Linked DNA regions of Homo sapiens: region 2 is linked to region 1. A link means that fine-mapping ties the variant in region 1 to the expression of a gene that starts in the linked region. Tissue or cell type: unexposed skin. Region 1 holds a variant in brackets; the other region holds the start of a gene. All regions are shown on one strand. Distances are between the middles of the regions.

The links. PIP is the estimated chance that this variant, and not a neighbour inherited with it, causes the effect.
Region 2: SEC31B starts here. The variant in region 1 is fine-mapped to the expression of SEC31B in unexposed skin (GTEx, PIP 0.95).

Annotation. Positions count from the first base shown.
Region 1 is chr10:100,358,071-100,360,570 of GRCh38, forward strand. All of the region lies in intron 5 of SCD (stearoyl-CoA desaturase), which reads left to right. Among named protein-coding and RNA genes, the nearest start is that of SCD, 12 kb to the left of the region's middle. The variant C/T (reference allele first, on the strand shown) is at 1,119.
Region 2 is chr10:100,518,722-100,521,470 of GRCh38, forward strand. SEC31B (SEC31 homolog B, COPII component) reads right to left here and starts at 1,140. Exons shown (of 26, transcript NM_015490.4): 1 at 1,061-1,140.

The DNA.
Region 1 (2,500 bases):
CTCACTGCAGCTATGACCTCCTGGGCTCAAGCGATCCTCGGGGTTCAGCCTCCCAAGTAACTGGGATTACAGGTGCATGCCACCATGCTTGGCTAATTTTTCTATTTTTTTGTAGAGACATGGTTTTGCCATGTTGCACAGGCTGGTCTCGAACTCCTGAGCTCAAGTGATCTTCCTGCCTTGGCCTCCCAAAGTGCTGGAATTATAATAGCCGTGAGCCACTGCGCCTGGCCTACTATGTTTATTAAAAGGATTTATTGCCTGTAATCCCAGCACTTTGGGAGGCCGAGGCGGGTGGATCATGAGGTCAGGAGATCGAGACCATCCTGGCTAACAAGGTGAAACCCCGTCTCTACTAAAAATACAAAAAAATTAGCCAGGCGCAGTGGCGGGCGCCTGTAGTCCCAGCTACTTGGGAGGCTGAGGCAGGAGAATGGCGTGAACCCGGGAAGCGGAGCTTGCAGTGAGCCGAGATTCCGCCACTGCAGTCCGCAGTCCGGCCTGGGCGACAGAGCGAGACTCCGTCTCAAAAAAAAAAAAAAAAAAAGATTTATTTGTCTAGGCGTGGTGGCTCACACCTGTAATCCCAGCACTTTGGGAAGCCAAAGTGGGTGGTTCACTTGAGGTCAGGAGTTAGAGATCAGCCAGGCCAATATGGTGAACCTCTGTCTCTACTTAAAAAAAAAAAAAAAAAAAAGTACAAAAAACTTAGCCAGGCATGGTGGCACGTGCCTGTAGTCCCAGCTACTCAGGAGGCTGAGGCAGAAGAATCGCTTGAACCCGGGAGGCAGAGGTTGCAATGAGCCGAGATTGTGCCACTGCACTCCAGCCTGGGTGACAGAGACTCCATCTCAAAAATATATAATAAAAATAAAAGCATTTTTTTTCTCTCTTTTTAACTTTCACATATCTCTTTTCAGGCACCTTCTTACCATTGTGCCTATTCTTACTTTAACCCATGATTAAAATAAATCATATACACTGTATAAATCTGAGATTATCATAGGAATGGAGTTTCTGGCATGAGATGTTTCCTGTATCGCAAATGGATCTATAATGACCTTCCCCACCTCCAGCCTCTGGGTGGCCATGAGTTCAAAGTGGCTGCCAATATCTGA[C/T]CTGTTGTTGTTATCATTCACTCCTCCTTGCCTGCTGCTTTCCTCCCTTATCACCTCACCCTTTGTTCTCCTCCAGCTCTGTTTCCTGCCACCCTAATCTTTTTGTTTCTTGAATTACCTCCCCCACTGTCACATGCTCATCTTCTCTGCCAAATTAACCTTCTCCCTTGAGCCTTTCTTGGGCTGTCTCTTGCTGCCCCAGTTGCAAAGTCCTGTCTTCTTTCTACCCGTTGACCCTCTTCTTTTTTTTTCCTCCCTTGTCTCTGTGTGCATCTGATTCCATTTTAAATCTGGTAACCAAAGGCCTGGCTAGTGCTTACACACAGCCCAGCTGCAAAACCATTAATGGACATTAATAATCCTCAGTACCTTTATTCCTGGCATTCTACCCCCCTCCTCCCCAGTTCACACTGCAGATCATCAGGTGTCACAGAGAGAGGACATACCTTGAAATGCCCTAGATGATGTCATTTACTTTGCAGGACTTCCTTGCCTTGCTTCTGATTAATGTCATGACTGGTCTGTCTGAGGGTACTGTTATCTACAAAGAGCCAAATATTAGCTCTTAGTAGCTATTCTTTATCCATGCCTGATTAGGGTCAGTATTATTTTTGGCTGTGGTTCAGAAAGAAGAGTCCTGCCAAGCGTTGGCAAACTCTCTATCTGTCGAGTTTCCAAAGCTTTACACGTTAGAGAAATTGCTGTGAATCCAGAATTTGTTTGTTTTCCTCCCTCCAGCAAAGTGAAATGTTCATCCCAAGAGTCCTCAAAATCTCAGAGGTTACAGGGTATTTTTCTTCCTCAGAGAGCTTCTGTTTTATCAGCACCTCCCCCACACCAGGGTCAAAGCTCAAAAAAGTTGGAGCAGCCCCTGGGAACTGCAGTGGCTGAGGACATTCCAGCCCCTGGGCTGGCCTTTCTTCTGATCTTTGGCTGCAGGGCCCACTCTTTTGGAACCTCCCACCCCTAGAGGTGGTTCCAGTGTGGTGGGGAAAGGTGTGCTTCTTTACTCATTTTTTTAAGAGTCATAGCCAGAGTGCTTCATTCTGCAAGGACGTGCACATGCACATGCACACAGAGCCTTGAGGGCAGGGCCAAGAGTGAATTTGGAATTTTCCAACCTGATACCCATTCCCAAAAGTAGGAGCTTCTCTCTAGTCATTTTATCCTCTGAGAAACTGTCAGTTCTCCTCCCACAAGGCTCCCAGACAGCCACGGGTGACCAGGGTCTCCAATCACTCCTTAAGATGCCTTTGACTGGCTGGGCGCAGTGACTCATGACTGTAATCCTAGCACTTTGGGTGGTCAACGTGGGAGGGTTGCTTGCAACATGGCAAGACCCCGTCTCTACAAAAAAAGTAAAATAATAAAAGTAAAGATGC
Region 2 (2,749 bases), 160 kb after region 1:
GTGACCTGCTTGAGTAAGCTATAGTCAGATCAGTCTCACCTACAAAAACAGGAGATAGTATTACTTAATCTCTAAGGTACTTTCTAGCGTGAAGAAAGTTTAAGCCTGCCCATTAAGCCAAGATTTCCAAAGCACCTTTAAACACTTGTGGCTACTATCACGTATTCTGTGACCAGCTCAACACTCTACTATACAGTCACCAGTGCCACCTGCTGGTCACAGCCATTTTAATGTTTCTGGGAAAAGATTCCCTAACAACAAAAATAGGAGCTGCGATAAGCAGCTGTGCATTTGATGTGCATATCTCAGTTAATTCTCTCAGTGGTCTTATCAGGTAAGTACTATGATTATCCCCATTTTCTAGAGATGACAACTGGCTAGGCCGGGATGTGAACCCCCATCAGCATCAAGAGCCCGTATTTCTAACCACTGTACTAGTCGCAAGTAAACCCTAGAAAGTGTTTTAATCGCTGACAGTCTAGGAACTGGGAAAATGGGCTCTTAATTCACATTGTTAAGAGGCATCTATTCACAAAAAAAGGGCCCCCGCTGGGGTCAGATTGGCCATGGGGGCGTGAGGGGGAGATGACCAATGAAATGCTCGACAGACCTGCCGTGCAGGAGGGCACCAGCTACCCTTGGCAGTCCAGTCCCTAGGGAGGACGGTCAGCACAGCCTCTTTCCCGCTGTCGCCGAAGCGCGGCGCGCCAGGGTCAGCAATGACAGACCTTCCCGCCCAGCCCAAACGCAGCGACACCGGACGGCCTCGGCTGGGCCAGGTCAGGACCAAGGCGGATGGGAAGGCGCAAGGCAGCAGTGAACAGGGAGACCCTCATCCGGCTGGGGGTTCCCGTGCGGCAGGGACAGTAGAGCCGGATCCAATTCAAGGGTAGACGTAGTGGAGGCCCCCGAGGCCCGGACCCGCGGGCAGGGCAGGCGCGGGCCGGGGGCTCCGCAGCAAGCGGGCTCCCCTCCGCGCTCTGCCGAGAAAGGAGCAGTGCTCCGGGTCCCCAGCGCAATCTCTGCTACCAGGGACCCCAGACCGGCGGGGCGAACCAACCTGTGCGGAAGACCCCGGACAAGGGTCAGGCGCGGCGGCCGGAGCCGCTCCTCTGGCAGGGCTCTCGCGCGGAGCCGGGCGCTGTGGACGGCGGCTGCGGAGGACCAAAGCGGCGCGGACCCCGGCAGGGCACCGTCGGAAACACGCTCCGCGGGCGCCGAGCCCGAGACACTGACAGACCCACGGAGAACGTTTCCAAACAGGATTATAGCTTTTAACCGGGCCTCCCTCACCTACCCTGTGATTGCGCAGCGGGTCAGATCTGGACCAGTAAGTTCTGGTCTATTCAGTTTGAGCCAGGCTCTAGGGCCAGTCTCTGAAAAGGGAAAATACTAACTCATTATCTATGTATTGAAGCGGGAGAAGACCCGGCCCTGGCCCCAGGAGCCCTCAGTGGAATCCATTTAGTTGAAAACGTAAAAAGCAATCGAGGCTGTAAATGGCAGTGAGTGTTGCACTGCAGCCCAGCAGAAACTGGTGCCCAAAACTTGGTTGAATTAAGGGCTATAAGTGTATGGAGGGTGAGACTACAGGGCCAGGGGCTTCCTGAAATATTTGAGGAACATAGGAGGGGTGTTATCCTCTGGAGCTGCAAGAACACAGGTGATATTCCAGCCGATAATGTATTTTTTATGTTGAAGAAATTGTGCCACTTCCAAATAAAAATGTTCTGTAGACAGGTCGGGTGCAGTGGCTCACACCTGTAATCCCAGCACTTTGGGAGGCCAAGGTGGGCATATCACCAAAGGTCAGGAGTTCGAGACCAGCCTGGCCAACATGGTGAAACTCCGTCGCTACCAAAAATATAAAAATTAGCCGGGCATGGTGGTGCAGGCCTGTAGTCCCAGCTACTCACGAGGCTGAGGCATGAGAATAGCTTGAACCCGGGAGGTGGAGGTTGCAGTGAGCTGAGATCACGCCACTGCACTCCAGCCTGGGTGACAGAGACTCCATCTCAAAAAAAAAAAAAAAATTCTGTAGGCAGCTTTAAATCTTAGAAACTTATGCTTAACGCATGAATTCTCTGTATTCCTGCCTGATACACCTCCAAAGATGGGGGGCCAGTTATCATGATGGAGCCCAACTCATTGTGACACGACTCCAGTTCCCTTCCATGTGGATCTGGCAATTTTGAAGTTAGACAGAAGGTAATTCAGTGCATTATCTGTGCCTAGCCCACGCTTCCTACCTACTAAGTACTCAAGTATTTCCTGAACTTCTTAGCTGGCACAACAGGGAATGAAGCCTGAGGAAAAGTAAACAGGGTTAAAAACTAAACCTGAGAGAAGGAGGCAGAAGAGTTACTGATGGAATACTCCTAAAGAAATTTGAACCAGAAGCTTAAGTCACAGTTTCGGGTAGGACATGATTAAGCCAAATTAAAAGTGCACTTTCTCAACTCACACCTCTTAAGAATTCTTGCTGGGAGCAGTGGCTCATGCCTGTAATCCTAGCACTTTGGGAGGCTGAGGCGGGCAGATCACTCGAGGTCAGGAGTTCAAGACCAGCCTGACCAATATGGTGAAACTACATCTCTACCAAAAAATACCGAAAAAATTGGCTGGGCGTGGTGGCATGTGCCTGTAATCCCAGCTACTCGGGAGGCTGAGGCATGAGAATCACTTGAACCTGGGAGGCAGAGGTTGCAGTGAGCTGAGATCATGCCACTGCACTCCAGCCTGGGTGACA